Linked DNA regions of Homo sapiens. The protein of the gene in region 3 interacts with the protein of the main gene of each other region in a pairwise test. Each region holds a gene or a part of one and is shown on either strand. Other genes may lie near its edges. The genes, in order: TTC3, TNIK and HARS1.

Evidence for each region.
Region 1: the proteins of HARS1 (region 3) and TTC3 interact in a two-hybrid assay, tested with the Homo sapiens proteins (one large-scale study listed by BioGRID and IntAct).
Region 2: the proteins of HARS1 (region 3) and TNIK interact in a two-hybrid assay, tested with the Homo sapiens proteins (2 studies listed by BioGRID and IntAct).

What each region holds. Positions count from the first base shown.
Region 1 is NC_000021.9:37,079,687-37,083,339, reverse strand, and holds part of TTC3 (E3 ubiquitin-protein ligase TTC3), read right to left. Parts: intron 394-3,653; exon of another isoform or gene 1-393. UniProt on the Homo sapiens protein: E3 ubiquitin-protein ligase which catalyzes the formation of 'Lys-48'-polyubiquitin chains. Mediates the ubiquitination and subsequent degradation of phosphorylated Akt (AKT1, AKT2 and AKT3) in the nucleus.
Region 2 is NC_000003.12:171,450,398-171,454,050, forward strand, and holds part of TNIK (TRAF2 and NCK-interacting protein kinase), read right to left. Parts: intron 144-3,653; exon of another isoform or gene 1-143. UniProt on the Homo sapiens protein: Serine/threonine kinase that acts as an essential activator of the Wnt signaling pathway. Recruited to promoters of Wnt target genes and required to activate their expression. May act by phosphorylating TCF4/TCF7L2.
Region 3 is NC_000005.10:140,681,353-140,685,005, forward strand, and holds part of HARS1 (histidine--tRNA ligase, cytoplasmic), read right to left. Parts: intron 1,868-3,653; coding exon 1,748-1,867; intron 1-1,747. UniProt on the Homo sapiens protein: Catalyzes the ATP-dependent ligation of histidine to the 3'-end of its cognate tRNA, via the formation of an aminoacyl-adenylate intermediate (His-AMP). Plays a role in axon guidance.

The DNA.
Region 1 (3,653 bases), on a different chromosome or scaffold from region 3:
AATAAAGTCCAACTTCCCTAATATAAGCATAGAAGACCTTTTGTGATCTTGCTCCTGCTTTTATCCCCAGTCACTCCACAACACACAACCTAGAAGCCAGTCATACCCAACTGCTTGTCCTTCCTAAACAAAACTTATTCTGCAACCACCTAATGTCTATTAGTTCTTAATACTCAATTTCAGGAAGCATTTCCTGATCTTCCCACTACCATCAAGTTGATTTTTGCACCTCTTCTCTGTAAACAAGAGCACCCTGCCCATGTCTCTGACAGCAGTTTTCACATTGTTTGACCATCACAGGTTTATCTCTGCAGGGTCACTATGGATCCAGAGGATATATTGTGCAATCCATTTGCCATCTGTACTGCTATTTACTTAATACTTTTCTTTAGGATAACTCAAATCTTAACTTAGATGTAAACTAGTTTTAATGGAAATGTTGGTATCACCAAGAAAGCTTGCTTGGTACCATAAAATTTTTTATAATACAATCAAACAAAAATATACTACTAAAATTAAATATTAAAATAAAGAGCTTCTGATCCCATCAGTTATGGTCAACTATACACTCTGGGGGAATGTACTGTTGGGAGGAAAAAGGTATATCCTAGATTAAAAAAAAAAACACTTTTTGGATGTTTTTGCTGAGCTCATAGAAATAGGGGAACATGTGAAGGCACCCTCTCCACGCAAAAGCAACAAACCTTGAGCTAGAAATTAAACCTGGCTACAGTTTAGTGCTACAAGTAGTGGTGCCAAGAGCAGTAATAGGATCAGGACACTGAGCCCTGGGCCAGAAGCAAAATGTAGGAACTCAAAAGTGATGCCAGCTAAACTTTCTGGCTCCCAGACAAAGCTGATAGAAATGCTTTCAGAAAGCAAGCATCCTCAAATTAGACTCTCAAGATCACCACAAAGATCAAACAGAAGTTCATAATCAATGATCACCAAACACATGAGGTGACAGCTACATTGAGGAGAGACAACAGAAAAAAAAACAAAAAAGCAATAAATTTAGACATCCCCCTCCTCAAGGATATCAGACATTGGGAATGTCTGATATAGTCTACAGAATAGCTATAGAGTCACAAAAATCAGCATATAACATGAGAACATGAAGAATGACTGGACATATCAAAAAAGAACCAGGCAGAACTTTTAGAAATTAAAAATGCGGCCGGGCATGGTGGCTCATGCCTGTAATCCCAGCACTCTGGGAGGCCAACGTGAGCAGATGACGAGGTCAGGAGATCGAGACCATCCTGGGTAACACGGTGAAACCCCGTCTCTACTAAAAATACAAAAAAATTAGCCGGGCGTGGTGGCGGGCGCCTGTAGTCCCAGCTACTCGGGAGGCTGAGGCAGGAGAATGGCGTGAACCCGGGAGGCGGAGCTTGCAGTGAGCTGAGATCGCGCCTCTGCACTCCAGCCTGGGCGACAGAGAGAGACTCCATCTTAAAAAAAAAAAAAAAAAGTAATTAAAAATGCAATTGTTAAAAGAAAAAAAAGAGACAGGATGGGTTACAGAGGATATTAGGCACAGTTGAAGAGAAAATTGGTGAACTAAAATATATGCCTTATGAAATTATCCAGCACTGTAAATTCTGGTAAAGAGAAACAAAGAGATAAAAAATATGAAAGATAAAGAATAAGTGATCTGGAAACAGTTTAGTGTATATATATATCCAGTTAAAGTTCCAGCAGGAGAGAAGAGACTAATGAGACATAATATTTAAAGAATACAGGGCTCAGAAACTTCTAGATCTCATGAAAGACAAAATGCAGAATCATGAAACACATGCATCCAAAATAGGATAAATATAATCTCTATCTAGACTTAGAAGTGAAATGATGTAACACAAAAGACAGAAAATCCAATGTAACTAAAAGAAAAATGATATTTTCTTCAAAAAACGCATAAATAGGCTGGGTGCAGTGGCTCACGCCTGTAATCCCAGCACTTTGGGAGGCTGAGGCGGACAGATCACGAGGTCAAGAGATCAAGACCATCCTGGCCAACATGGTGAAACCCCATCTCTACTAAAAATACAAAAATTGGCCAGGCATGGTGGCAGGTGCCTGTAGTCCCAGCTACTTGGGAGTCTGAGGCAGGAGAATCGCTTGAATCCAGGAGGCGGAGGTTGCAATGAGCCAAGATGGCGCCACTGCACTCCAGCCTAACAACACAGCAAGACTCCACCTCAAAAAAAAAAAAAAAAAAAAAAAAAAAGGCATAAATAAAACTGGCAGCACACTTTGTATAAGCAACAGCAGAATAGTATTCCTACCCTACTGACAGAAAAGAAACACCAACCTACAATTGTACATCCATCAAAATGATCTGTCAAGAACAAAGGTAAAATAAAAATACTTTTAGATTTTTTTTAATATCTAAAACTGAGTCAAACACCAACCAAGACACCTGGAACATAACCAATTAAAAGACAGAAGTTGTCTGGTGAGATTAAAAGAAAAATCCAGTAGTATGTCCCTTATAAGAGACACTTAAAATGTAAGGACACTAAAAAAAATCAAAGTAAAATGAAAGAAAAGAATATTCCAGGTAAATTAGCACCAAAAGAAAGACGGGATCAGACAAAAAGCCTCTAAGACAAAGAAGCAAACTTAGAGAAGATCACAATATAGTAAAGGTTCGAGCCACTAGGAAAAAAATGTTAAGCTTGCATGTAGCTAATAAAAGTCTCAAAATACAGAAGAACAAAAATTGTTAGAACTACAGGAAATCTGTTAGAAACTAGTAATGGTGGAATATTGCAACACACTTCTCTCAGTTAATGATAGGATAAACCAAAATTAATAAGGATAAAGACTATCAGAACAACACAAATAACAAGCTTTACCTAATAGACACTTAACAATTACAGAATATATACTCTTCACAAGTGTACACAGAACAGTTCTAATAATTCACTATGTACAAGGCCATAAAGCAAGGGCAAAAAAAAAAAAATGCTAAAAAGATAAAATATTCTCTGGCAACACAAGTAAGAAATCGATAATTAAAGGAAAACAATATAGACACATTTGAAAATTTAAAAATGTCTAAGTAACTCATAAGTCAAAGAAAAAATCAAAATAGAAATTGTAAAAATACTTAGATTTGAAAGTTAATGAAAACACTATAAATTAAACTATGTTAGATAAGCAAAAATGAACTTTGAGGAAGTTTACAGTCTTGCATGCTTATACTAGGAAATCGGAATGGTTGAAAATTAATATTAAGTGTGTAATTTAAGTGAAAAAAATAGTAAAATAATAAACTGAAAGTAAAATGAAATAATAAAAGAGAAAAAAGATCAATGAAATAAAAAACAAATAATAGAACAAATTAGGCCAAAAGTTAATCCTTTGCCAAGATTTTAAAAATGGACAAACTTTTACTAAGACTGATCAAGAAAGAGAAGTCAGACATAAATAATATTCAACATGAGAAAAGGGGAACACATATACAAATAAAACAGAGATTAAAAAGAGAATTAATGCCATACCACGAGCGGTGGCTCACACCTGTAATCCTAGCACTTTGGGAGGCCGAGGTGGGCAGACCACTTGAGGTCAGGAGTTTGTGAAGAGCCTGGCCAACATGGTGAAACTCCGTCTCTACTAAAAATACAAAAAAATCAGCCAAGCAT
Region 2 (3,653 bases), on a different chromosome or scaffold from region 3:
TTGTGTTGTGGGAATGACTGATTCACTAAGATGTCCAGGATGTTGGCAATCCAGTTGAGGGACGTGGTATAACGGGACCCAGCACTGCATTCGAATTTCATCCTTGGACAAGACAAGTAACTTCTCTGACCCCAAATTTCTACCTACAAAAGAGGTAAATTGGATCACCAATCACCAAGCCCTAGGCAGACAGATAGATAAGTAGATATATAGACAAAGATATGCAAACACAATCCCCCTTTACTTTTCATTTTAGCCTTAACATGGTTTTATGGCTTTATCCTATTTATGCCTTTTATCAGAAGGTGCCACAACTTACTTTTTGGAGGTATGAGGTGTAATAAATAAATAAGATCCCTTTTAAATGAATGAATTAATTGCATTCACACAATTGATATTTATTCAATCAACATTTATCATGTGCCAGACACAGTTCAAAGCACCAGGAATGTGGTGCTGAACATGCAGGCAAGATCCCTATTCTCACAAAACTTATTAGGCTCCAGTTGGGACAGCCAGATTTTTAAAAAATTCAGATAGTCACGACTGCCTTAAAGATAATAAAGCACTGAATTGGACAGTTTCAGGGTGGAAGGGAGTGTTACTTTACAGATATATTGCAAAGAAAGCCTCTCTGTTTAGTAGGGAGCCTCTAAGAGGGCCCTCAGTGACTTCTGCCTTCTGGTGTTAGTTAATATTCTTGTGTAGTCCCCTTCGAAATGAATAGGGCTGACTTGGGTAGCCAACAGGGTATTGCAGAAATGATGGTGTGTGATTTCCAAGGCTAGGTCATAAAAGACATAGTGGCTTCTGCTCTGCTTTCTTGATTCCTCTATCTGGTAAAAGTGGGCACGATGTTATGAGGATGCTCAAGCAACCAATGGAGCCACCTACGTGGGGAGGAACTGAGGCCTCCTGCCAACATCCAGCACCACATAAGTAAATCATCTTGGAAAGAGATCCTCCAGCTCCAGTCAAGCCTTCAGAAGATAGCTCACCTTGCCAAAATCTTCCTGCAACCTCAGGAGATACCTCATGCTAAAACCACCCAGGTAAGCCACTTCTGAATTCCTGGCCCACAGAAACTGTGAGATATAATAAATGGTTATTGTTGTTTAGGCCACTAAGCTTGAGGGTAGTCTGCTATGCAGATACATAAGTAATAATACAGGCAGCATCTCACCTTAGACCTAAATAATAAGATGGAGCCCTCCATGTGAAATTTCTGACACGGAGAACTACAAGAATGAGCTTGGCATATTCACAAAACAGAAAAAAATCAGTGTGGCTAGAGTGTAGTAAAAGACAAGTGCAGGCTCTCTTCTCCATCCAACCATGGGTGTAGAAACCATGCCAATGTTGTCTTCAGCTCAGCCCCAGCAACTAGTAGCACCCAATAATCAGGTACTGAATGAATATATACACAAACAAATAAATGAATGAATGCTGGATACCATGTGCATTTCTTCCCCTACAGTTAATCACATTTCACAGAATCACAGAATACTGGGCCTGAATTTACCCTGCACCCAAACTTGCACCTTCTAATACACTAATCAAACAAATGTTTGTAACATATGCAATGTATTGTTAAAGTCTACAAATTTCCTACTTGATGCATACTGCCAAGGTTCTAATTTCACTAACTAGAGAGACAGCACTTTAAAATCTAGGGTTACTTCAGAGTCTAAATCCGGGTATCCAGCAGCAACACTGTAAGGGAGTACCCAGCGGAAGTCACAGTCAGCCCTTCGTCCTATCACTCGGTCTTCAAAAACTAGAACAACACTTTAAATTATAAATCAGAATCTGACAGCTGGAAAAAAATAGCTCATTTAAAAATTAGAAAGGGATGTTACGTTCAGTGGCAATTCCCAGCTCATTGAGGTGCACAGTTTGCAATCTCTTGGTATCTCCAACAGATAGAATAAGAATCCATGGCTATTTAAATGCCCTCAGTCCTGCCTCTAGTTCCCTTACATATTCCAGGAATATGCATCCCAGCAATACAAATTGCTGGAAGTCACCTCCAGCAATTTCTAGTCCAAACCACTCATCTTACATGTGACAAAACTGAAGCTTAGAGGGCAAGGTGTCAGAGCCAGCTTTATGACGCTGGGCTCTAACTCCCAGCTGTGTGCCTCATTAAACCTCACCATCTCCCAAACTCTCTCTACCCGCTCACTGCCAGCTCTGTCAAGATAAAAACTCAACGTTGTCTTCCAGTGGGCCACCCCAGAAGCACACCCTTTCCCGCCCATCTATTACTGTTTAATCAAAACAGCAGTCATAAGTATTATCCGATTGTTGAAATAATTGAAACACACTCCAAACACACACACACACACACACACACACACACACACACACACACATACGCCTTGCAATTCTAACCCATGGTATTTTAAATCTCTCAAAACTTAGAATAAGACAATGGAGAGAACACTTTCCTTGGCAGAAAAATTCTAGAAATAGGAATACCTACCCAGGACCAGGCATAGTATTTCTCGTAATTGGTGCCCCCGGAATTGTACTCTATGTAATTAGCATCCACTGGAATTGTACTCTACATAAAAAGTGTCCCCAGGAGTCATGCAACCTAGACTATAATGTAATTCATGATCCCTGAAATTGTGCCATGGTCAGCAACAGGCCCCACCTTTCTGAGGTTTCTATACTCTCTCTACATAGCACCACCTCCAGCCCTTCTAAAAGGGTTGCACAGTATATATTTTGTTAATTCAAAATTTATTTGTTGAACGAACGCCTGCTGTGTAAAGAAAACTGGTGAGGATCCCTAAGAAAATCAAACGTTGCCTCTAAAAAGGAATTGTCTAGTAGTGAATATAATCCAAGACAGAAAGTTCTGAGTGTTATGAAAGAGGTGTGAGGTCAGTTCTGAGACAGTCTATGAGTGGGAGGGACAACTTGAGAGAAATCAGAGACTTCTGTGGAAAAGGTGGTCTGCGAATGTTCAGCGTTGGGGCAGTAGGTACAGAAAGGAGACTAAGACAGAGCGCCCCCTACAGAGCATCCATGGGGGAATGAAATTGTTCCCTGCCGCAATGGGGGAGTGGTCGTCAAAACTGCAGAGCTCGGTGGGAGGCCCCTCTGAATTGCCGCTGGTCTTAACATGCTAAAGAGTTTAGTTTTCAGTCTGTAGACTAAGGAGACAGAGAAGGCCTTGAATAAAAACAACCAGATTGAAACTGTGCGTTTGGAAGACTCACGTGGCTACAGTGTACGAGAAACCAGTCAGAAGAAGGCTGGTGGTAGAGACACAGGAGGAGGGGAGGTCCTGTTGCGGGTGTTGCCCAGGGGACAGTAACTACAGCACTTGCAGGGAACAGTGGAGACAAGGGGACCCATATGATAAACATTAAGGGAAGAATTTTAAGTTGGGGTGATATAAAATGTGTTTTGAGAAACTGAGGGCACCCCCATGAGACAACCAGGACATGTAAAAAAGAGTGGATAGAATCATGTTTCTCTAAAGGGAAATAAGCTTCCAACCAGACTGGAAGGAATCACAAGCGGAATTCATCCAACATTTTCTACTTAAGTCCTCCCTCTCTCTCCACTAGAGACCTTATATTTATATGTGCAGAATAACATTTCATTCAAAAAATATCATTAAGATTTTCTTAGAATTC
Region 3 (3,653 bases):
CAGAGGGAAGACGATGTAAAGACAAAGGGAGGCTGGGCGCGGTGGCTCATGCCTGTAATTCCAGCACTTTGGGAGGCTGGGGTGGGCGAATCACTGGAGGCCAGGAATTCAAGACCACCAACCTGGTCAACATGGTGAAACCTCGTCTCTACTAAAAATAGAAAAATTAGCCAGGTGTGGTGGCACACGTGTTGTAATCCCAGCTACTTAGGAGACTGAGGCAGGAGAATCGCTTGAACCTGGGAGGTGGAGTTGCAGTGAGATGAGATGGTGCCACTGCACTCCAGCCCAGGCAACAGAGCGAGACTCTGTCTCAATTAAAAAAAAAACAAAGGGAGATGATGGCCATCTACAAGCCATGGAGAGAGGCCTGGAACAGATCCTTCCTTATGGCCTTCAGAAAGAACTAGGCCTGCCAACATGTTATGTCAACTTCCAGCCTCTGGAACTGTGAGAAAATAAATTTCTGTTGTTTAGACTACCTAGTCTATGGTACTTTGTTATGGTAGCCCTAGCAAACTAATACAGTAGGTAAAAACAGTCTCATAAATATGTACAATTAAATATCAATAAAAAGAGACATTGATGAAGGAAACAACAGATAATTTCAGACAGTTTTATAGCCTAAAGGCAATAAACTAGCTCATTGTGATAAGAGAGAGAACAGCTACTTTAAAGAAGGTAGTTGGAGAAGATTACTTGAGGAGTGGCATTTTAGCTGAGCTCTGAAATTAAAATCTGGCTGGCTGGACGTGGTGGCTCATGCCTGTAATGTCAGCACTTTGGGAGGCTGAGGAAGGAGGACCACTTGAGGCCAGGGGTTCGTTCGCAAGCAGCCTGGGCAACATAGCAAGACCTCTGTCTCTATTTGTATTTTTTTTTTTTAAAAAGGAATTAAAATCTGCAGTCTCTAGTATAATCTGAAATAAATCATGCAAAGAGCTAAGGAAAGGGAGTTCAGGAAAGGGGAAGAGCAAGAACAAAGGTGTGGAGGTACAAACACACTGACTATGTTCCAAGAGTAGGAAGAAGACCAGAGTAGCATAGTGGGCAAGAGGAAAAATAGCATGAGATGAGGTAGGAGAGGCAGTGGCCAGATCACCTAGGGCTCTGTAAACCTGAGTAAAGAGTTTGGGTTGTACTATAAGTGCAGTGGGAATCACTGGGTTTGAAGCAGGTAGTAATGCAATCTGGGTTGGCTGGTTTGTTTTAGAGACAGGGGCTTGCTACATTGCCCAGACTGGAGTATGGTGGCTATTCACAGGCACCATCATAGCACACTACAGCCTTGAACTCCTCGGATCCAGTGATCTTTCTGCTTCAGCCTCCTGAGAAGCAGGAACTACAGATGTGCCCAGTTGCAATCTAGTTTTTAATAGCAAAGAACTACTAACAACTTCAGAGTCCATCAATAGGAGAGTGGTTGCATATTTATGTACGTATGGTTTGCATGAATCTAGAAAACATTCCAAGTACAGATGCCACGCAATACAATGTAGAGAGGACCCAGAACAATTACCATTCCAAAGAATGGCTCTCTTTTGGAATCTGCTGGCCACAACCAAGATAATAAAAGACAGGGCCTCTCCCTCCAAGCCATTCTTGTCCCCCTTCTTATTGGAGCAAAGACTGGTCTGTGTCCACAACAGGAGTGGGCCCTTTGGACCCTCACTCTCTTGTTGTCATCTTCTTTGTTATTCAAATGCCCACTCATCTACCATGTAGTTTCTTCTTGCCCATTCCTCACCTTTAGTTCAAATACAGGTGTATCAATGACTTCTGCACCGTGGCGCTTGAAGCAACGGATGATTACGTCAAACACCTTCTCGCGAACTGCCATCTGCCGGGGACTATAGTCTCTTGTGCCCTTGGAGTTGAAATCAGCCAGAGAACCAGAAATGAGGTTTGAAAACCAAGAACAATATGTTTTGGAAATATAAAAGGATGACCTCAATAATGAAAAAGCAAATCCTGCTCTAAACAGATTTTCCTACAGGCCACTGAGTTTTAAAACAAGTACAAATAATTCCCTATTAATTCCCACACCCATTTGCTATCTGCCTTCCAAACTCCATTCCCTTTTAAGTTTGGGTCTATTTTCTAAAATTCTTAGAACTCTTTTCTTTAAGCCATTTTTCTAAACACTCTCTCTCAGATAACAGAACATTTCCTGGCCTAATAACAAACACCTACCTGAGGCCAGGCACAGTGGCTCACGCCTGTAATCCCAGCACTTCGGGAGGCCAAGGCAGATGGATTGCCTGAGGTCAGGGGTTCGAGACCAGCCTGGCCAACATGGTGAAACCTCGTCTCTACTAAAAATACAGAAATTAGCCGGGTGCGACGACACGCCCCTTGTAGTCCCAGCTACTTGGGAGGCTGATGCATGAGGATCCTTGAACCTGGGAGGTGGAGGTTGCAGTGAGCCGAGATTGTGCCACTGCACTCCAGCCTGGGCAACAGAGTGAGACTGTCTCAATAAAACAAACAAATGGTGGTGGCAGGTGCCTGTAATCCCAGCTACTCAGGAGGCTCAAGGCAGGGAGAATCACTTGAACCTGGGAGGCGGAGGTTGCAGTGAGCCAAGATTGCACCACTGCACTCCAGACTGAGAGACAGAGCGAGACTCTGTCTCAAAAACAAAACAAACCAACCAGCCGGGCGCGGTGGCTCACACCTGTAATGCCAGCACTTGGGGAGGCCGAGGCGGGCGGATCACGAAGTCAGGAGATCAAGACCATCCTGGCGAACACTGTGAAACCCCGTCTCTACTAAAAATACAAAAAAATTAGCCGGGCGTGGTGGCAGGTGCCTGTAGTCCCAGCTACTTGGGAGGCTGAGGCAGGAGAATGGCGTGAACCCGGCAGGTGGAGCTTGCAGTGAGCTGAGATAGTGCCACTGCACTCCAGCCTGGGAGACAGAGCAAGACTCTGTCAAAACAAAAACAAAAACAAAAACAAACCCAACCAAACAAACAAAAATAATAACAACAAAAAAATACCTACATGATTATAGGCAATATAACCAACTCAAACTGGCTCAACTAATTGAATTCCAAATTTTATAAGCAACGTTTCTCTCCCAATATAACTTTTCTTTTAAATCTTAGTTACAACTGTTTGTTCTCTAATTTGTTTCTGGTAACAACTCTATGACATAGGCTAGGCAGATAAATTTTACAGATGAAGTACAGGATGTTGAGAAGTTAAGTCATTTCTTAAGGCCATTCAGCATGTTCGTGGCAGTCAGGACTAGAACTGTGTTGTCCTTCCAGGTCAGAGCTTCCAATCTGGGCTTTTATACCCTACTCCAAAGTCTTTGGTTTCAGGACCTCTTTACACTCTTACTATGTATTCAAGACCCCAAAGTGGATTATACCTATCAATATTTACTGTATTAGAATTAGAACGGCAAAAATTTTAAAATATTTATTCATTTAACAAATAACATATGTTAACACAAATAATATATCTATTATATGTTAACGCAAATAATATTTTAGAAAAAGGTAACTGTTTTCCAAAACAATTTAGTGAGAAGAGTGGCACTGATTTACATCTTTGCAAATCTTTAATGTCTGACTGAATAGAAGACAGCAGGATTCTCATATGTGATTTTTGCATTCAATCTGTCGTGATATGTCGTGCTGGTTG